4 separate regions of the Homo sapiens genome follow, and regions 1, 3 and 4 are each linked to region 2. Evidence: fine-mapped expression QTL. A gene starts in region 2. Each other region holds a variant in brackets. All regions are shown on one strand. Distances are between the middles of the regions. Region 1 overlaps LINC02878 (long intergenic non-protein coding RNA 2878). Region 2 holds the start of MROH6 (maestro heat like repeat family member 6). Region 3 overlaps PYCR3 (pyrroline-5-carboxylate reductase 3). Region 4 overlaps MAFA-AS1 (MAFA antisense RNA 1).

Evidence for each region. PIP is the estimated chance that this variant, and not a neighbour inherited with it, causes the effect.
Region 1: its variant is fine-mapped to the expression of MROH6 in cerebellar hemisphere (GTEx, PIP above 0.99).
Region 3: its variant is fine-mapped to the expression of MROH6 in whole blood (TOPMed, PIP above 0.99).
Region 4: its variant is fine-mapped to the expression of MROH6 in whole blood (INTERVAL, PIP above 0.99).

What each region holds. Positions count from the first base shown.
Region 1 is chr8:143,697,701-143,703,228 of GRCh38, reverse strand. LINC02878 (long intergenic non-protein coding RNA 2878) reads right to left here. Exons shown (of 2, transcript NR_015445.1): 2 at 4,816-5,290. Among named protein-coding and RNA genes, the nearest start is that of LINC02878, 3.4 kb to the right of the region's middle. RefSeq lists an enhancer at 2,935-3,435. The variant G/C (reference allele first, on the strand shown) is at 3,083.
Region 2 is chr8:143,570,454-143,575,453 of GRCh38, reverse strand. It overlaps MROH6 (maestro heat like repeat family member 6), which reads left to right and starts at 2,682. Exons shown (of 14, transcript NM_001100878.2): 1 at 2,682-3,033; 2 at 3,269-3,421; 3 at 3,633-3,787; 4 at 4,460-4,577; 5 at 4,797-4,981. The coding sequence starts at 2,740. NAPRT (nicotinate phosphoribosyltransferase) reads left to right here. Exons shown (of 13, transcript NM_145201.6): 10 at 1-31; 11 at 109-263; 12 at 361-468; 13 at 554-669. The coding sequence ends at 616. RefSeq lists an enhancer at 3,324-4,173.
Region 3 is chr8:143,603,504-143,608,503 of GRCh38, reverse strand. PYCR3 (pyrroline-5-carboxylate reductase 3) reads left to right here. Exons shown (of 6, transcript NM_023078.6): 2 at 378-442; 3 at 1,372-1,551; 4 at 1,825-2,037; 5 at 2,350-2,442; 6 at 2,622-5,000. The coding sequence ends at 2,804. Among named protein-coding and RNA genes, the nearest start is that of PYCR3, 3.6 kb to the left of the region's middle. The variant C/A (reference allele first, on the strand shown) is at 2,778.
Region 4 is chr8:143,416,850-143,422,377 of GRCh38, reverse strand. MAFA-AS1 (MAFA antisense RNA 1) reads right to left here. Exons shown (of 3, transcript NR_186795.1): 2 at 4,459-4,637; 3 at 3,228-3,403. Among named protein-coding and RNA genes, the nearest start is that of MAFA, 11 kb to the left of the region's middle. The variant C/T (reference allele first, on the strand shown) is at 2,397.

The DNA of each region.
Region 1 (5,528 bases), 130 kb before region 2:
AAGAAAAGACCCAACAACCAACCAGAAAACACAGGAAATGACTCAAACACCAAAGACCCAACAACCAACCAGAAAACACAGGAAACAACTCGAACACCAAAGACCCAACAGCTAACCAGAAAACACAGGCAAATGACTCGAACACCAAAGACCCACCAACCAACCAGAAAACACAGGAAACGACTTGAACACCAAAGACCCACCAACCAACCAGAAAACACAGGAAACGACTTGAACACCAAAGACCCAACAACCAACCAGAAAACACAAGAAATGACTCGAACACCAAAGACCCAACAACCAACCAGAAAACACAGGAAACGACTCGAACACCAAAGACCCAACAACCAACCAGAAAACACAAGAAATGACTCGAACACCAAAGACCCAACAACCAACCAGAAAACACAGGCAATGACTTGAACACTAAAGAAGTACAAATGCCGATGCATGTCCCCAACAACCAACCAGAAAACACAGGCAAACAACTCGAACACCAAAGACCCAACAACCAACCAGAAGACACAGGCGAACGACTTGAACACCAAAGACCCAACAACCAACCAGAAGACACAGGCGAACGACTTGAACACCAAAGACCCAACAACCAACCAGAAGACACAGGCGAACGACTTGAACACCAAAGACCCAACAACCAACCAGAAGACACAGGAAACGACTCGAACACCAAAGAAGTACAAATGCCGATGCGTGTCTGAAGACAGCCATGCTGCCCAGGAAACGGGGAGGGGCAAGTCAAGCCAGTGCCAGGATGAGGAAGACCCAGAGTAAGGGGCTGTGGAGGGCACCTGTGTCATTGCAGAGCCTGGGAGTGTGGAACGCTCCTGATTTTGTTGGCTGGCTGCTGCTATTAAATCTAAAACAGCCCTGCTCTTTGACTCAGCAGATCGACCTCTAGGAATCCATTGTGTACCTTTGTTGTGGGTTGCAGAGTCCCCTGAAAAATTTACGTTCAAGCCCTAACCCCCAGTACCTCAGAACATGACTGTATTTGGAGATGAGGTTGTTGCAGATGTCATTAGCTGGGGTCATGCGGGTAGGCCCTAATCCAATGTAACTGGTGTCCTTATGAGAAGCTGGTCACATGAAGACAGAGACACAGGGAGAACGCGTGTGCCAACAGAGGCAGAGATTGGAGTGATTTTCTACATGCCAAGAACTGCCAGGAACTGCTGGCAACACTCAAAACTGGAAGAAGCAAGGGAGGATCCTTCCCCTACAGGTTTCAGAGGGAGCACAGCCCTGCTGATGCCTGGATTGTGGACATCAGGCCCCCAGAACTGAGAGAATTCATTTCTGTTGTCTGAAGCCACCTGGTCTGGGGTGTCCTGTTACAGCAGCTGCAGGAACCTGGCAAGGCCCAGGTGCACACAGACGCAAGAGCGGGGATACAGGCACGTGTGCACACAGATGTAAGAGCAAAGACATTCACTGCGGCGGAATTCACAGCACCAAAACGCTGGGATTGCAGGCTGTGTCCTTCCACAGGACACATTCATGGGACAGCATGCGGTTGCTGGAAAGAGCGCACACAGACGGAATGAAGAAGCACATGCGGGGCGCACAGGACGACTCCACACGATGAGGAGCACACACACGCAGGTTTGTGCCTACACAGGTGTTGGACAAGTATTTGTTGTGTCAACCTAAAAAGAAACTCAAGAGACAAGCTCTCCAAATAAGCGAGTTGATTTGAGAATTGCAGAGAATTGCAATTCGGGGTATTTGGCAGGCTATAGGTGTATCCAGGGGAGTTGGGGAAAAGGGGAATCTTAAAAACAAAAAGGGCCAGGCGCAGTGGCTCACGCCTGTAATCCTAGCACTTTGGGAGGCCGAGGCGGGTGGATCACCTGAGGTCAGGAGTTCAAGACCAGCCTGGCCAACATGGAGAAACCCAGTCACTACTAAAAATACAAAAATTAGCTGGGTGTGGTGGCTTGCGCCCGTAATCCCAGGTACTTGGGAGGCTGGGGCAAGAGAATCGCTTGAACTCAGGAGGCGGAAGTTGCAGTGAGCCGAGATTGCACCACTGCACTCCAGCCTGGGAGACAGAGCGAGACTCCATCTCAAAAACAACAACAACAAAAACAAGAACAAAAAAGAAGCCCACATAAGCTGTTTTCAAAGCCAAGGGTCTTTTACAGGAGTCTGTTACAGGAGCTGGAATTAGTGCGTGGGCTGAGACAGTCACTGCTGGGCAAGCGTCCGTCTGGGGTAGGCAACCCTGAGGGCGCCCTGTGGGTCCTGGAACCGTCTCCGTGCAGGAGTGTCTTGGGCTGCGTCCTGTCACAGGCCTCTGTATCTGAGGACTTCAGGGCTACCCCGACTCCATGTTGGTAGCGGCAGCTTTCACAGTGGACACACTCCACCATCAGGAAAGCTCATTCCACAGGAGTAGGGGCAGTAAGGGGGCTTTACCCTTTGTGCTGTATTTCCTGGAGAGCAGAAGGCCTGTGTGAATTGTAACTCGGAATAAACTTCACTAAAATAACGTGCACTTAGCTCTCTTTTGTAGACAAAAGTTGCCTGATGTATTGGCCAAGGGAACCCCAACTGCATTCCACCCCTTCTGGCAAGAGAACATCTCTCTTCACATCAGACCAATCAGAACCCCGGGGATCCACGGCGAGGGGATTTGGCTGTGTATGGACAGGACAGGGCAGTACTCGAGCAAGGAAGAGGACGTGAGCCTGGGTGTTCTGGGCCCCAAGTGGAAGGTCTGATCCGCTGTGCTGTGGGGCCAGACACCCAGGGCCAACCCCGGGCCACTCAGCAGGGGGTTTGCTGTGGGGAGCTTGTGCAGAGAGAGGCGAGTTCCATGCAGGCGTGGCAGGGCTTGTGTGGGGGTCTGCAGCTGGATGGTCCTTGAGAGAGGAGCCACGGGGCCAGGCGTTAGCACCCCTCCATCTACTAGTTCCTGGATGTGGCCCCAGGAAGGGGCATAACCTTGGAACAGACATCTGCGTCAGCGAAGGTCAAAGCAAAGGTGGCGGCCCCTGAGGGCTGTGGCCAGCAACACTCAGCACCTACCAGGAAGGGCAGCCGAAGGGGGATTGGAGAA[G/C]TGCATTTTCAGCCTCCCGAGTAGCTGGGACAACAGGCGTCCACCACCACCCCTGGCTAACTTTTGTATTTTTAGTAGAGATGGGGTTTTACCATGTTTGCTAGGCTGGTCTCAAGCTCCTGACCTCAAGTGATCCGCTTGCCTCAGCCTCCCAAAGTGCTGGGATTACAGGCGTGAGCCACCGCGCCCAGCCTAGGGCTGGATTTTATCTATGGGATTAAAGGGAGAGATGGAATCAGGAAGAGAGTAGGACTAGGTCTGCATCTGCACGCTGAACAGATTTGGCCAGGAGGACCTGCCCTGAAGAACAAGGCAGAAGCCATCAGTTTCGTTGAGTTGCCACAAAAGACTTGGTGTATTTCCCTTCAGACATCTCTCCTCTCCCAACCTGTAAGTCATCTGAGAGGGTCACTCCCTGTCTCTCGCCACGTGTCCAGGTGACAGACCTCAGGCCCCTTTAGGAAATCCTTAGATGCTCAGGCATGCGGCTCCAGGGCCGCGGCCAGCCGAGTTGCTGAGTAAACCCCAAGGAAGGTGATGGGCGATGGAGACCGTGTCCTACTGCTCGGCGGCCGCCGTACAGCCCACCACAGCTCCCCGGCTGCTGGATCCACCCGACATCTGTTCAGCAGTGTCCAAATACTGAAATTTTAACTAGTCACTCACTTTCCTTATTCCTTTTCAAATAAATTGTTTCCGCCCTTTCCCCTCTTTGCATGGTGGTTTTGTCATCTCCCACATCCGGAGTTGCAAAAAGGCCCTGAGGTGGCTGGGCACAGTGGCTCATCCCTGTAATTCCAGCACTTTGGGAGGCCGAGACGGGTGGATCACGAGGTCAGGAGTTCAAGACCAGCCTGGCCAAGATGGTGAAACCCCGTCTCTACTGAAAACACAAAAATCAGCTGGGCGTGGTGGCGGGTGCCTGTAATCCCAGCTACTTGGGAGGCTGAGGCAGAGAATTGCTTGAACATGGACATGGTGGTCGTGGTCCCCGGTGGAGACACTGCAGCTGGAGGTGGGGTGAGTGGACTGAGCACCTTTGAAGTAGTGTGATCAGAAGACGAGGCTGGCCGACCCCTCTGTGGAAAGGACACAGCCCTCCAGCTGTGGCAATGGGTGTGCAGGCCACAGGCTCACCTGTCCTAAGGCGGGGCTGCTCTGCCTTTGTTTGGATTGTGTGTGGTATCATGGCTCTCCTGCAGTCAGGCTGCCACACTTCCTAAGTGTGCACGTGTGGGGAGGGGAGGAGTGGGGAGTGTGAGTGATTCTGGGTGCTCAGGTGCATGACAGCTGGTCTCCCCTCATGGAGTTACCACTGTAACCGGACTCCAGGCTTCCACCATCGGCCCTCGAATTTTACATAGGATGGTTGGCCCCGGGAAAAGGAGCCTCTGAAGTTTTAAAATCCAATATGGCTCCAACATTAAGCTCACACTGGGGACCAGCTCAAAACCCACCCATTTCACATTCCCCAAAACGTTTCGTTTGGTGGGCCTGTGATTTAGCTCCCAAGAGGTCACAGATACAAACACAACGAAGCGAGCTATTAGGGCTGGACATGCACTCAGTGACGCAGCTGTCCCTCCACCCTGGCCCGGGTCAGGTTCTGCCAACTCCACACGCACACTCTTCGTTTGAAGGGTCCCAATGGGTTTGAGGACCTGTAAGACTGGTACGCACGGCGGACCCCATGAACACCCAGAACAACAGTGAGTAGAGTTTATGATACGTTGTAACTAGAATGACCCCAAATATCTTTATTTACTTGGCATTGTACTTCCCAAAGAAGAATATTGCAGCCACTGGGCCTCCCTTCAGAGTGCAGAGAGGCAGCTCCAGGAGCTGAGCCTGCTGGGATGCAACTCCTCCTCCTAGCACCATGGACTCCTTCATCTTTCAGTCAAGGCTGCCAGTGGCTACCACGTGGCCCTCCCATTCCTGGAGCTCTCAGCTGCATCCGCCACCTGCTCTCTCGACGGACTTTTTTTTTTTTGAGATGGAGTCTCACTCTGTCGCCCAGGCTGGAGTGCAGTGGCACGATCTTGGCTCACTACAACCTCCGCCTCCCAGGTTCAAGCAATTCTCCTGCCTCAGACTCCTGAGAAGCTGGGATTACAGGCGGCAGCTACCATGCCCTGCTAATCTTGGTGGACTTTACACTGGACACATGTGTGCTGAGCGCTAACACAAAGGCCAGGCAAGTGTCCCCTGGAGACAGAGGGGTGGAAGGCTAGGTCACAGGCATGGCTGTCAACGGACCCTGCTGTGCACCCATTCTGGCCGCGAAGTAGCTTCATGCATTCTCTGCCCAAGATAAATGCAGAGAAAACTCGGCTCTACAGGCTCACAGGGAGTGACGGCTGCTGGCCCCAGGAAGGAAGATGCTCCTTACGGGACACCTGCTGTGAGCCCCTTCTGTCACCCCACCCCCGCCTGGGTGGTGAGG
Region 2 (5,000 bases):
AAGGCTGCTTTCCGGCTCCTGGGCTCTGACGGTGAGGCCCTCCCATCCCCCCTGCTGTCCACCTTCAAAGCACCAGGGCCCCCGCTTATTCTTGCCCCGTCCACACAGGGTCTCCACTCATGGACATGCTGCAGTTAGCAGAAGAGCCAGTGCCACAGGCTGGGCAGGAGCTGAGGGTGTGGCCTCCAGGGGCCCAGGAGCCCTGCACCGTGAGGCCAGCCCAGGTGGAGCCACTACTGCGGCTCTGCCTCCAGCAGGGACAGGTGGCTGCCCCACCGCCCTCATCCTGACCCCCAGCCCCGGTAGAGCCCTGACTGGGAGCTAGCCCCAAGCTTCTCTTTCCTTACCTCCTCCCTGCAGCTGTGTGAGCCGCTCCCATCCCTGGCAGAGTCTAGAGCCTTGGCCCAGCTGTCCCTGAGCCGACTCAGCCCTGAGCACAGGCGGCTGCGGAGCCCTGCACAGTACCAGGTTGGGGGGAGGCCCACCCTGTCATTCTGCCCTGTGCGCCCCCGCCCTCACCCTGCCCACCGCTCCTGTCCTCTGCTCCCTGCAGGTGGTGCTGTCCGAGAGGCTGCAGGCCCTGGTGAACAGTCTGTGTGCGGGGCAGTCCCCCTGAGACTCGGAGCGGGGCTGACTGGAAACAACACGAATCACTCACTTTTCCCCACAGCTTGTCCTGTGTTGTTTGTGTCGTTTGTTCACCCAGCCCACGGGCTGCGCCTCCCGGGCTGCGGCTGGGCTGGAGTCGGGAATCTGAGCTCGAGGTAGCAGGAAGATTTGCATCCCAGTGAAAGCACAGGCCCTGCCGGCGTGGGAGACAGCCCTGTGCTGAAGCCCGAAGGGCAGTGAGGAGTTCCCCGGCTTTGGGTAGGCTGTGGGGAGTCAGATCCCACACTAGAACTACAAAGCCACAGGCAGGGAGGGCTTTGGTGTCTGCCTTGGAGTTGAGGGAGTTGCTGCAGACCTTTCCTTGCTAGAGGCAGGCTGGGGACAGGACAGGGTTGGGGGTAGTGCCAGGTAAGAGGGTCCAGCCGTGGCCCTGGGCTCCCACGCCTGCCTAGGCACTGCCCCCCAGGCTCAGGGTCAGTGAAGACGTCTCAAACTCCCCAAGTCAAAAGGGAGTGCTCAGGTGTCTCCTGCCACTGCTGCTGCCAACCCAGCACCACCCTGGCATCTGGCGTCAGGGACACAGCTCCTGACCCAGCAGCCCACGGAAGGAGAGGAAGAATGGGGAAGAAGTTGAAGCTCCAGGAGATGACTCAGCCCCAGACACCTGGCCAGAGTGGCACTGCACGTGGCTGTGCTGGGCTGGCCCTGCCTCTGCACCAGCAAGTTCCTGATCTCAGGGTTCCGCCAGTTTGGGCAACGTGAGCTTCAAGAGGAACTGCTTGGGGGAGAGGTTCTAGGCTTGGCAGGAAGTGGAGGCTGGGGGCCTGGGCCTCTCTTGTCGAAGCAGCCTGAGGTGGCACAGACAGGCAAGGGTGTGGGGGGAATGCTGACCGCCTGGGGCACTTCCGTCTGCCCAGGCATTCCACCAGACCAGCTCACCTGGCTCCCCGGGCTTCAGGGTGGGCAGCACCACTGTGTGGTTGGCTGAGGGTGGAGGGTGGGGACTTGGAGCAGAGGCCCAGTCCAGCCAGCCCCGGGGAGTACGAGCTAGGAGAGAGATACAGACTCACACACATTGGACAGAACACACCACACCCCAGGCACCCCCAGGGCACCCGCGCACTCCGAGGGGCCCAGCCAGAGTGGCTGTATTCTTCCGTTCTTGCACTGCTGTAAAGAAATACCTGAGACTGGGTAATTTCTAAGGAAGAGAGGTTTAATTGGCCTGTGGTTCTGCAGGTACAGGAAGCATGGCTGGGGAGGCTTCAGGAAACTTACCATCTTGGTGGAAGCGGAAGCGGGCAGGTCTTACATGGCCGGAGGAAGGGGTGGGGCGGTGCCACGCACTTCCAGACAACCAGATCTTGAGAAGTCTTATCATGGGAACAGCACCAAAGGGGGAAGTTGCCCCCAGGATCCAATCACTTCCCACCAGGCCCCACCTCCAGCACTGGGGATTACGTTTCAACATGAGATTTGGCCAAGGACCCAGGACCCAGAGGGGCCTGCACAAGCTCTGGAGGGGCCACCGCTCCTCTGGTGTCTTCACTGCCCCCTCCACACCTCCGGGCTGCCCCAAGCTCACCCAGTCATGCCTGTTGCAAGGTGTCTGACAGAGCCAGCGTGCAGGGGGCGGAGCCAGCGTGCAGGGGGCGGGGCCAGCCCCTAGCCCCAGGCCCAGTGGGGAGCTGACTGCTGCTTGGGGGCTGAATCAGGCCTCGACTCAGGGTGGGGCCCAGACTCCTGGACCCTGCGAGGACCTCCTCAGAGCTGTCCACAACTGCCCTGAGCTCCCTGGTCAACAGGGGCTGGTAGTCAGGGTGGGGGCCCTTCTCCCCCTTTCTTCGTGGATCTGCCAGCTCTTGGGGATCCTGTTCTCAGGGCCCTGGTGGGTAGAGCCACACCACAGGCACTCAGGCTGCAGGTGGCCACTCCCCTCCAGCAGCCCAGGCAGGAGGGCCCCTCAAAGGCCCATTGTAGGCACGTCCGTGTGGCTCCCCAGCCCCCGCAAGCTCACGCTAGCGCACGCCACCACGCCCGTCCGTGGTCCCGCCCGGGGCGGCTTCTAGGTCAGTCCTGGGCACAACTTCGCAGGAGGAGCAGCGGCAGGTGCTGCAGGCAAGGGCCGCCATGGCTGGGGGTGTGTGGGGCCGGAGCCGGGCCCGGGAGGCTCCCGTGGGGGCTCTAACCCTGACAGCACTGACTGAAGGAATCCGGGCCAGGCAGGGGCAGCCCCAGGGACCCCCTTCCGCAGGCCCTCAGCCCAAGTCCTGGGAGGTCAAACCTGAGGCTGAGCCACAGACCCAGGCACTCACCGCCCCCTCTGAGGCAGAGCCTGGACGTGGGGCCACCGTCCCTGAAGCTGGCAGCGAGCCCTGCTCCCTCAACAGTGCCCTGGAACCAGCCCCTGAGGGGCCCCACCAGGTGACGGGGGAGGGAAGGGATGTTGTGCGAACCGGCCTGGGGGTCCTGTGGATGGTAGGTGGAAGGCGGGGTGGCAGGGGGGCGGTGCTGGCCCCGGGGGAGGTCAGCGTGAAACAGGCTGGTGAGCAACAGAGGAGCAAGGGATTTTGTAGGAAGCCAGGTGGGAGGCCGAGGGACCAGGAGGAGAGCTAGGAGAGGTTTGGGCACTTCAGACGCCCCACCCATCCTGCCCTAGGTTCCCCAGAGTTCCTGGGAGGAGGGAGTTCTTGCCGACCTCGCGTTGTACACGGCTGCCTGCCTGGAGGAGGCTGGCTTTGCAGGGACCCAGGCGACAGTGCTCACCCTGTCCTCAGCCCTGGAGGCCCGGGGCGAGCGGTTGGAGGACCAGGTCAGCCTTCACCCACTTCATGCCCTACAGAATCCTGCCGGTTCGGGCACCAAGGTGGTGGGAGGGGCCTGGAGAGCGCAGCCTGACCCTGCCATCTTCAGGCTGCTCCTGCCAGGCGGGATCAGGGTGGGGGTGGAGGTGGGGTGCAGGCCAGAGGGGAATGGACGGTGGAGGAGGCCTGACTGCTGAAGTCTGCCCCCTTCCCCACCAGGTGCATGCTCTGGTGCGTGGGCTGCTGGCGCAGGTGCCCAGCCTAGCGGAGGGGAGGCCCTGGAGGGCGGCCCTGCGAGTGCTGAGCGCACTGGCCCTGGAGCATGCGCGGGACGTGGTGTGTGCGCTGCTACCCCGCTCTCTGCCCGCCGATCGGTAACCCAACCGTCCTGGCCCTGCGGTCCCCACGCGGCTTCCTTCCCTCTTCCCGCTTGGCGGTGGAGTCTGGCCCCAGAAGAGGGAGCTGAAAAGGGGCAGGGCCTCCTTATTCCAGCCCCGCGATGACTCATGCCCCGTATCCATTCCCGCTCCCCTCATTTTTAGCTCCGCAAACTCCCCCCACACTCCTGCCACAGAGTTTCTGATGCTGGGCTCCTCTCTTGGAGCCACCTTCTATCTTCGGGTGGCCTCCCCTGGAGACCGTCCTGGGGTTGGCTCCGGAGTGGGGTGAATGAGGCTGGGGGGCTAACGTGCCTGGACACCCCTGGCTCTTTGGTTAATTGGCCCCAGAAGTTATCTTTGGTTTTATTCTCTGTGGCAATTTTTTTCTTTTTAATAATGCCAGGTTTGTTTCACTGTCGCTGACCCAACGGGACTCCCAGTGGGTCCCCACCCTGCAGCTCAGCTTGAGATAGGCTATGTTGTGGTCTGCACAATTAACCCTTCATTTGTTTCTCTGAGATTTGGGGATGGGGGGAGATGGGAGGGGTTTCCTGCCCCTCCCCTGCTGGAGTCCTACTGGCTGCCTCCACCCTGGCTGGGGACTCCCTACATTCCCTGGACACCCACCCATCTCTTGTCTCACACCAGCCCCCTCCAAACCCTCAGGGTAGCAGCCGAGCTCTGGCGCAGCCTAAGCCGTAACCAGCGTGTAAATGGGCAGGTGCTGGTGCAACTGCTGTGGGCGCTGAAGGGTGCTTCGGGGCCGGAGCCCCAGGCACTGGCGGTAGGTGGCTCCAGCCATTACCAGGGGGTGGGGGCGGGGGTGGGGGGTGGCGAGGAGCGGGGAGGATGGGCATAGGGAGTTTGCACCTAGGTAACTGCTCCTGGAATGTCCCATGCGTGTCTGAGGCTGTCCCCATCCTGTTGACAGCACGCCTGTCCCTCTGCTGCCCAGTGCAGCTCCAGGCGTGCCCCAGGCCTGAGTGGGCCACTTGCTCCACAGGCCACACGTGCTCTTGGGGAGATGCTGGCTGTTTCGGGCTGCGTGGGAGCCACGAGGGGCTTCTACCCACATCTGCTGCTTGCGCTGGTCACACAGCTGCACAAGCTGGCCCGCAGCCCGTGCTCCCCCGACATGCCCAAGATTTGGGTTCTGTCCCACCGAGGGCCACCACATAGCCATGCCAGGTGAGAGGCAACACCAGGT
Region 3 (5,000 bases), 33 kb before region 2:
GCCAATCAACTGCCTTTGTACCCACCACATTCCCCCAAGGCCTGGTGTTCCTCCAGAGGTACTGCCTCTTCTGCTCCAGGCAGCCTTCCCTTCCCTGGAGGCAGAGGCCCCAGGGATCTGTGTCCTCACCAATGAGGTAAGCTCCTGGCCTCCATACCCAGCAGCAGTCAGGGGCGTTGACCGCCAAGTAGAATCAGTGGATCTGATTGCCTGGGCCCAGTGAATGGTGCATCCCGCTTTGGGTTCCTGGGGCCAGGAGGGGGCCCAGGATGGGCCAGGCGTGGCTGAGCCTGAGAGGCCAAGTGAGCTCCCTCTCCTCTCCGTGCCATCCTATCCCACCCCTTCACCAACCCCTCTTCCTTTTCCTTTCTTTCCAGGAAAAGTGGAAGCTCAGCACATACTGGCCAGTGCACCAACAGACAGGAACCTATGTCACTTTCAAGTGAGCATAGAGCCCAGGTTCTTCATACCCTCAGGAGCCCAGGATAGCTCTTGGCTCCTGTCCCACTAAGACACTTATCAGAGCCAGGGATGGGTGGTTTATTTAGCTGAAGTTTGCAGACTGGCTGGTCTGGGCTGGGAAAAGGGAGATTAGAGGCCAGGAGGAAAGTAAGGTTGTGGAGGGCCAAAGCAAAGTGTTTGTGTGTGTGTGTGTATGCATGTGTGAGTGCATGTCCGTGAGTGTGTGTATATGCACGTGTGTATATGTGAGGCTATGCGTGTGCATGTGTGTATGTATGTGCTCATGTGCGTTTGCACGTGCGCTTGTGTGTGCGTGTGCACGTGTGGTGAGTGCATGTATGTCAGTGCATGTGTGTGCGTGTGTGTATGAGTGCATGCTCATGAGTGCATGTGCACCTGTGTGGTCGTGAGTGCACGTATGTGCTTGTGCATGTGTGCCTGTGCAGATGTGTATATGAGTGCGTGTGTGCGTGTATGAGTGCGTGCGTGTACACATGAGTGCATGCTCGAGTGGGTGTGTGTGCATGTGTTTGTGCTCATGAGTGCATTCATGTGTACATGTGTATGTATGCTCGTGAGTGCATGTGTCTGCGTGTGTGTATATGAATGCATGCTCGTGAGTGCGTGCATGTGCATGGGTGTGTTTGCATGCTGGGTGGTGGTCACAGACATTCACTGGGGATGGAGGGCTCAGGGCTTGGGGAGGCGCTGACATCAGGATGGCCTGTGAGGAGTAGGGCTAGTCTGGGGGAGTCTTGGGCACTGGAGAAGTCGGGGTGGTCTAGACACTTGCAATGGGAGAGGCCCTGGGACCATGGGAACGTGTGGCATCCAGCAGGAAGGGCTGTGATGGAGAGGGTGCGCCGCTTACATGGCCCCTGAGGCTTGGTCCTGGTGTCCCTGGCGCAGGCTCTGGGTTGCCGGACCACGCACTCCAACCAGGAGGTGCTGCAGAGCTGCCTGCTCGTCATCTTTGCCACCAAGCCTCATGTGCTGCCAGCTGTCCTGGCAGAGGTGGCTCCTGTGGTCACCACTGAACACATCTTGGTGTCCGTGGCTGCTGGGGTGTCTCTGAGCACCCTGGAGGAGGTGAGTGTCCCTTGGGCTAAGGCCTTGGTCCCAGTATAGGCTCTGCTGGCCAGGCTTGGGCGGCAGGCAGCCCCCCAGAGAGCCTGAGAGGTGGCCGTGTGGCCCACCTGGATCAAGTGGCTGGATTTAGGGTTCCCTCCTGGTGCTGTACCTGGGAGGCAGACGCTGGAGCCCACCGCGAGCTGACGTGGACCTTTCCTGAGGCCCCTGCTGGGGCCTGCCCAGCAGGGCCCAGTCCTACAGACTCCCTGATTCTGACCTCTCTCTGGCCAGCTGCTGCCCCCAAACACACGGGTGCTGCGGGTCTTGCCCAACCTGCCCTGTGTGGTCCAGGAAGGGGCCATAGTGATGGCGCGGGGCCGCCACGTGGGGAGCAGCGAGACCAAGCTCCTGCAGCATCTGCTGGAGGCCTGTGGGCGGTGTGAGGAGGTGCCTGAAGCCTACGTCGACATCCACACTGGCCTCAGTGGCAGTGGCGTGGCCTTCGTGAGTATTGCCTCGTCCATCCCCGGCCCCACCCTCGGCAAAGAGGGGGCCCACCCCAGTCCCTCTGACAGCCTCTGCCCTCAGAGTCCAACCTTGAGGCCTGCGTGGTTGCTCCCCAGGCCCACTGGGAGCTCTGCTTGTCCCCGGGACTTCACTGCCTTGGGGATCTTTGAGGCCAGCCCCTTTGCAGACCGTTGGGCTCAGGCCTTGGTTCTGGCCACCCACGGCTACTGCTCTGGGCATTGTTCCTGAAGGTCCTGAGCCCCCAGGCTTTGACACCTATCCCCCCCAACCACCATGCCGCGGCTACAGGTGTGTGCATTCTCCGAGGCCCTGGCTGAAGGAGCCGTCAAGATGGGCATGCCCAGCAGCCTGGCCCACCGCATCGCTGCCCAGACCCTGCTGGTGAGTGAGGGTGGCCCCTGGGGAACATCGGGAAGGCCCAGGCCTGTACCTCTTCCAGTGCGCAGGGAAACAGCAGGCTCGAGAAGCTGGGGCCAAGGTTGGGGGATGCAACGAGGGCAGGCCGCACAGTGGGGACCGCACCACCTCCCCCCGTCACCAGGCCCTAACGCTCTCCTCAGGGGACGGCCAAGATGCTGCTGCACGAGGGCCAACACCCAGCCCAGCTGCGCTCAGACGTGTGCACCCCGGGTGGCACCACCATCTATGGACTCCACGCCCTGGAGCAGGGCGGGCTGCGAGCAGCCACCATGAGCGCCGTGGAGGCTGCCACCTGC[C/A]GGGCCAAGGAGCTCAGCAGAAAGTAGGCTGGGCTCTGGCCATCCTTTCCTGCCTCTGTGCCCCTGCCTCTCCCTGTGTCCCTTCCCCTGAGGACTGCGGCTCCCTCCCTCCTGCATGAGGGTCTCCTACTGCTCCTTCTCCCCTTGCACAGGGAAATGCAGGGGGCAGGACTTGGGAGGTTCCAGCAGGCGGGGGAGCCCCGACCAGTGGGGACACTCCTCCCTCCCCAGTGAGCAGAAGGCACCGTGGTGGTGGCTCTGCCCCTTGCTGCAGTGAGCCCACCTTGCTGCAACATTGGTTCTGAGGGGCCCAAGAGATGGCGTCTTGGTCATTTGCCCGCATGGTTGGGCAGTTGGTTGAGGCCATGAACAGAACTTACGGTAACAGGCACGGCTGGCCCAATGCCTGGTCTGGAGCTGGAGCTTGCCTTTGGCTTTCCAGGTGGCTCCGTGCAGCTACAGCCAGGCCGGCTGCCTCATCTCAGCTCTAGGGGGCACGAGCCATATGGGGTCTGCACAAGAGACCCTCTCCCCTGCAGTAAAGCCAGGGGCCCTGGCCTGATGGGGCCCCCATGGGGAGCTGGAGCCTGCCCTGCAGCCTGGAGAAGAGGGTGGCTGTGGTGGGCGTGCTCATCCCCTGCTAAGGAGCAGGAGCTGCTGGGCCAGGTCTGCGGCAGTGCTGGGGTGGCACCAGGTGGGCAGTGGTAGGTGGGGTGGCTTGAGGTCTGGGAGGGTGGCCCTGGCCAGCCAGGACACATGCAGACCCCTGGCTTTAGTCTGGATACAGGCTCCCTCTTTCCTCCCAATCCTAAGCTCCTGACAAGTGGCCAGGTGGCTCTGGGCCCTCCTGCCCCGTGCCTAGGTCAGGGGTCCTGGAATACCCCGTAGCTCTGGCACCACCACACTGGCCTCTGATGGCAAGACTTGGCCCCTCCACCTGTCCCTAACGGACGGCAGGTCAGGAAAGCCAGGACTCAGGGGAGAAGCAAACCCCCAGGATTGAAGGCTAGGGTTCTAGGGCCTTTGGGTGGGGAGGGCCCGGGCCGGACAGCCTCAGCTCCGTCCCCTGCCCCACAAGATTCACCTGGGCCTCCAGTCCCACGCTGGCCCCAACTGCTGCAGCTCTCGGCTTCCGCCCAACAGCCTCTGGAGGTGAGGCGGGAGCATGCCCTCAGCGAGGCTGGGCGGCGGGTCCTGCTGTGCCATCTCCCTGTGCGCCTGAGCAGATCAATCCACCAGTGCAAAACAGGGCTAACGGCACCTGCAGGACAGCAGCACGCTCCATCCCTCATGCTCAGCTGCCTCTGCGGCCACGGACTTCTGCCCTTCATCTGCTCTCTCTTACTCTCCTGAGCCTAGCCCGTCCGTAAGCTCCCTCCCCTGCCTGGTTCCCAGGGCAGGCTGACTCAGTTGACTGCTTGGTCCAAGCCTGGCCCTGGCACTTGTCAGGGTCAGCCTAAGGAGATGGGAATAAAGAGGCCAGAGAGCACCAAGTGAGCTCATGTTTCACCAGAGGTGGATAAAACCAAGTTCTGGGCTGGGCCCAGTGGCTCACATCTGTAATTCCAGCACTTTGGGAGGCCGAGGCGGGCAGATCACAAAGTCAGGAGTTTGAGACCAACCTGACCAACATGGAGAAACCCCATCTCTACTAAAAATACAAAATTAGCTGGATGTGGTGGTGCGTGCCTGTAATCCCAGCTACTTGGGAGGCTGAGGCAGGAGAATTGCTTGAATCCAGGAGGCGGAGATTGCAGAGAGCCAAGATCATGCCACTGCACTCCAGCCTGGGTGACAGCAAGACTCTGTCTTGGAAAAAAAAAAAAAGAAGGTCCAATGCCTGCCCCATAAGTTGAGGCCTGGAACCTTGGTCAAGCACAGGTGTCAGCCGAAGGGGGTGCTGGCACTGTGGACAGCAGAGGTCTCCCCATGCCTGCTACAGGCCTCTACATCACCTGGGGGCTTTGTAGGGCATGGAATTGCAGTTTCCCCTGCACGCTGTCACCCCAGGGGACTGTATGCCAAGCCTGGGCAGGCCTGGGAGCCTGGGGTCTGGTGCAGGCGGCCCCCTGAAGGAAGGTGGACAGCCCTTCTGACGGCCACCTGCATTCACACCAAGCCCATCTGCAAGGAGAAATCATTGACTTTGCACCAACACCTGTCTCCCCCTGGGACCTCTGACAAGCCCTGGGCACTAGGTGAGCTCAGCTCGGGAGGTGGAGA
Region 4 (5,528 bases), 150 kb after region 2:
TGTGGCGGGCTCCGCCCTGGGGCCTCCCCGACTCCACTGCACCTCCCGGCACCCACTCAGCGTGGTCTAGCTCGCAGGGGATGGCCCCTTTGCCTCCCTCCCACCCAGTCCTCAGAGGCTGACACAGGGAGGTATCTGGAACATGCCAGGCGCCAGCCCCATGGGCCTTGATCGCCTCCCCGGAGCAGCCTGGGAGCAGCAGTGAGCGTGCAGGCAGGGTGCTGGGCACAGAAGAGTCCCAGGCTGCTGGCGGGGCCCCGCGGGACTCTAGGGGACTCTGGCTTCTCTAGGAAGGAGGGTCCCGGAGTCCCTTCTCCTGCAGCACCCTTGCTCCCGTCTCCTGGCTGGGACCCAGGTGTCTGGTCACCTCCCCCAGAGGGGTGGGTCTCAGGGACAAGCCATGTCCTCCGGGAAGCCACATGCCCTGGGTGGCCCCTCTCCAGCCGCCGCCTCTGCCCAGCTCTTGGTACAGATGCCCCAGGGGAGCTGATGCCCTGGGGGAGGGGCGTAGCCCACGGCTCCTCTGCGACAAGGGAGTTTCAAACACAGGGGCCCTGGCTGGGCCCACCCCACCCATCCCCAGCTTCTCCCTGCAGCCTCTGGTCTCCTCTCTTCAACCCCAAGGCTGCCCCTCCGCACAGAAGCCGCCCATGGCTGTCCCGGCCCTCCAGCCCACCCTCCTGAGGGATCTGCCCGCCTCCCACCCCCGGCCTCAGCACTCCTGGTGTGCTCCTCCTCACGGGAAGCCCTCTGCCGACCCCACAGCCCCCTTCGTCCCGGAGCACGGAGCACGGAGCACGGCTCGCCTGTCTCAGAAGCGTTAGGCCCCGCAGGCGCCTGGCCCGGCCTCGGCTCCAGCTCCACCCTCTCTACTGGGGCCCTGCCGTTGCCCCTGCTCCCCCGGCCGGGCGGGGGTCTCCTGCCCATTTGCTGCAGTGCTGGGGAGGGGCTGTGCTTTGCCGAGCGGGGCACTGGCGGTGCAGCAGAGGCGTCAAGAGGCGGCACCTGTAGACACGCAGTCGCGGTGTGTGAGACGCGCGGGCTGGGGCGCGGCAGGACGCAGGGCAGCGGTGCTGGGACCATTACCCCAGCGTGGTGGCGCGGGCGCCGCAATCCCGGGCGGCACGAGGCTCAGGTATGGGAAGAGAGACGGGAAGATGAATTGCAGACTAAGCCAGAGGGTGGCCAGGAAATCGGGAGAGGAAAAGGGCGGGGAGGGAGGGGGAAGAGCCCGCCGGGCCTCCAGGAGGCCTCGCCTGCCCGTAGGTGGCTGGGCCTGTGTGTATAAAGTCGGGGCTGGAGCGGCTGCAGGGGAGCAGCCGTGAAATGGGGGCAGGGAGGGCGGCGAGGAACTGGGGACAGATCCTGGGGCCACTGTGGGGGCAGCAGGGGCCCCTGCTTCTGTGTAGAGAGGATCGTGGGGGCACAGGCGGGAGCTGCCACAGTCCAGGGAGGTCGCTGGCCCGGCCCCTCACCCTTCTGTTCCTGCTGGCGGTTCCCTGCAGAGATGGTTCCTCACCCACCGTCTCTGCCCTCTGGGTCCTGGGCGTATCGCATGGGGGACGGGACACTCTGTCCGCCTTGTGCCCTGCCTGGGCCCGCTGCCCTATGGAAGAGCAGGAGGCCGGCACGGGTGCCTCCGAAGGGCAGCCTCGCAGCACATCTGAGGGTGCTTGGTGCACCGCCCTGGCACCACCATACCTGAGAGCTCAGGAGGTGCGGGTGGTGCGGAGGGCTCGCGCGGGGGTGGCTCTGCGAGTCTGGGAGGAAGGCTCTGGTCTCCTCCTCACCTTGTCCACGCGTCTTCTCTGGAGCAGGGTGGGGGCTGCCATCGCCTTGGAGGCGGGTCAGGCGGTGGGGCGTGGGTGGAGACGGGGCCTTGGACCTCGTCACTGGCCTTGGTTAGGTCAGGTGGGCACCTCCCCAGCCCCCCGGCCCAGTCACCAGGCCACCCCCGCCATGGTGGCAGAGGGGCTGGACTGGAGTCGGCCTGACCTCTGCCCTTCCCCAGCTGGAGGTAGAGCGGGGGCCGTCTCTCAGGGCTCAATCACCTCATCTGTAAGAAGACGCTCCTCCCATCGGCCATCCACACAGGGGCCTCATGAGCAGTAAAGAGAGGGACCCGTTCAGCAAGCCCTTCGTCAATCTGAGAAGGCTTCTTGGAAGAGGGGGCTCTGTTCCGAGGGGAGGGCGTGGAGTGGGATGTGCCTCTCCAGGTGCACCGGGGCGGGATTTACAGGGGTGCCCCCAATCCAAGACCGGAGATGTCTTGGCCACGTCTGTGGGGCTTGCAGAGGGGCCTGGGGGAACAGAGCTTGGCTCCTGGCAGGAGGGGAGCAGGGAAGGAGCAGGCATGGGAGGGGCACCCAGAGCTGCCATCCATGGGGGGTCCCCAG[C/T]TCAGCCCAGCTCAGCTCCCAGAAGGCTTTCCTCCCCCTACTCAGCCGCAGTGCGCTGCCCATCACTGCAGTCCCCACTCCTCCTTTTCAAACCCCTCATCCGCTGGGTCTGTCCCCTCACCCTCCCTTCCACAGCCCTTCCCAGAAGGTAAAACCCAGCCCTGCCCAGACCTGTGTACTAGGGACAGAACAGCCCCAACTCCTCCCACTTTCTGCTGAATTTGGGGAGCTGACTTAAGCTGAGTTCAGAAACTCTGGGGCCCTGGACAGGGCGCTTAGGGCCACGTTGAGGTTACGATCAGGAAGGTATGACGTTCAGCATTCTCCAAAAGAGAATTATTTCTGCAGGAATTCATGTGACAAGCCCAGACACACTCCTGGCTCCCGCTGTCTAGCACTCTTTAGCCATTAAATCTTACCCACCCACATACACGTAAATAACATTTAAAACGCACTATATAATAATGAATACAAAATATGTTGTCTAATCATTCTTACCTGGAAAGACCTTTATGGAAAATTCCAGGGCCAGGCTGAGCTGCTGCCCACACCCACAGGCTAGCAGAATCCAAGAGGGACAGTGTGGGGGCGGGAGGGCCACACGGACCCCTTCCTTCCCCCAGACCTCCTTTCTTGGTGACAGGGAGAAGGAGCAAGGTGAGGAGGCTTCTCCACCGTGAGTCTCAGACGGAGAGCTGTGCCCTCATTCACCTTTGGAACCTCTGACCTGAGGCACCTTGAGACGCAATAATATTAATACCTTAACTGCAAGACTCCGCGACTCACAGAGAGATGTAAGTGCAGGTAACAGAGAGCTGAAGGAACAATGACTCCAACAAATTCAATGGAAATTTAATTTCTATGTTGTAAAAGTCCAGAAGCTGATGGCCCAGGGTGGCCGTGGTGACTGCTTCACAGAACGCTCTGGATTGAGGCTCTTTTCATCTTGGCCTGTACTCCCAGGGTCTCCTGGCCCACAATGTCAGCTTCCACTCCAACCATCACATCTGCATTTGAAGATGAAGAAAGGTGAAAGAGGTAAAAACAAAAGGAGCATATGAGGTGATGGGTGGATGAACGGACAGACAGCTGGACGTGTGACAAGAAAGATGAGGAAGACAGCAGGATGGGTAGGAACGGGAGGATAGTGGCTGGATGGAAGGATATATGGATGGTTGATGGTGGGTGAATAAATGGTGTGTAGATGGGTGAACAGGTGGGTGAGTGGATACGTGGATGGTCAGTTGGGTGGATGGATGGGTGGATGGGTGGATGGATGGATGGGATGGTGGGGGAATGGGGAGATGGGCAGATGAGTGGGTGGATGATGGGTGGGTGGATGGATGGAAGGGTGCGTGGGTGAGTGGGTAGATGGGTGAGTGGTTGGGTAGGTGAGTGGGTAGATGGATGGATGGGAGGATGAGGCATGGGGGAATGGGGGATGGGTGGGAGTGGGTGAGTGGGAGGAGGGTGAATGAATGGATGGGCGGGTAAGTTGGTGAGTGGGTGGGTGAGTAGGGGGTATGGGGGTGAGTGGGAAGATGAGTGGGTGGGTGGGGGGGTATGGGGAAGAGTGGATGAGTGAGTGGATGGGTGGGTAGGGGGTTAGAGAGTCAGTGGATGAGTGGGTGGGTGGGTGGGGGTTGGAGGGTGGGAGGATGAGTGGGTGGGTGGCTGGGTAGGGGGTTGGAGGGTGTGTGGGAGGATGAGTGGGTGGGTGGGGGGTAGGGGGCTGAAGGGTGGGTGGGAGGATGGGTGAGTGTGTGGGTAGGGGGTTGGAGGGTGGGAGGATGAGTGGGTGGGTGGGTAGGGGGTTGGCAGGTGGGTGGGAGGATGGGTGGGTGGGGGGTTGGGGGTGAGTTGGTGGGTGGATGGGTGGGTAGGGGGATGGGGTTGCCTGGGTGGGTGGTTTAGGAAGCTGTGGAATGACTCCAAACGTGGAGTGAGGGAGCTCAGTTTGTACCACCGAACCTTTGCTCATCTCTCCCCTGGGCCCTCTTCCCTCTTCTCTCCAGAGCCCTCCTCAAATCTCACACCTCCATTTTCAAGAAGCTGGCCTCACCCATGCAGCCTCTGTAGCTCTCCTTCCCCTCCAAGCTTGTTTCTCTCGGCGCTGCCACCGTCGGATTCCTGTGCTGGTTCTTGCTGGTTTTCTTCACCTCCTGACCACCAGAACACTGGCGCCGGGAGGGCAGGGTCCGTGTGTTTCCACGGTTGATTTCCTAGAGGCTGCAGCAGCGCCTGGCACCGAGGAGGTGCTCCATCAATATTTGTTGAAAAGAAAGAAAAGGAAAGCAGGATGGAGATGGACTGACCCTGCCCAGCACCCCTGTCCAGCCCCTGCCCAGCACCCCTGTCCAGCCCCTGCCCAGCACCCCTGTCCAGCCCCTGCCCAGCACCCCTGTCCAGCCCCTGCCCAGACCCCTGCCCAGCCTCCCCTGTCTATTTTCCAGACAGCAGCCAGAGGCGTCTTTGCAGACACCACTGTCCTGCAGCAACCCTCTAAACCCTTCGCCGGCTCCACAGTTTGATCCAGGTCAGTCTGAGTTGCTCAGTCAGTCCTGAGACCTGCCCTCTCTTGTCCCTGTTCTCACTGCCCCCTGAGGCTTCCAGTCTTCCTTTAGGATCTGGGCCAAAATGGCCTCCTCCAAGAAGACCCCAGGCTGTTCTGTGAGCTGGTTTCCCCCTGTGTCCAGGAATGCCCCCACTCCCACAGTAGTGAAGTCTACTTTCCACCTGCTACCATCAGAGTTGAGCCCAGTTCTGGGCCTGGCACACAGGTGGGGCACTCCACAGGGTCTGACAACCCCTCCCACTGACCTGGTCTCTCCTCTGTGCCCACCAGGGACTCTATACTTGGGCCTAGGACTCTCATTCTGCAAGTCCCGCCTGGGCCCTTGCGGCCTCCATGGCATCCAGGGCCTCTTGTGGCCCATAGCAGGTGTGGGCTCTGCTCTTCAGCCTTCTGCAGCCTCCTGGGATGCTGTTCTGTTAGCAGCTCTTCTGGGGCAGGTCACTTTGGCATCAGCCACATCCACTTTTGTTTTTTTGAAGTGATATATGCACATCTGTCTTTTATAAATCAAATGTAGTAAGACGTAAAACAAAACTCAGCAGTCTCCTGCCCATGCC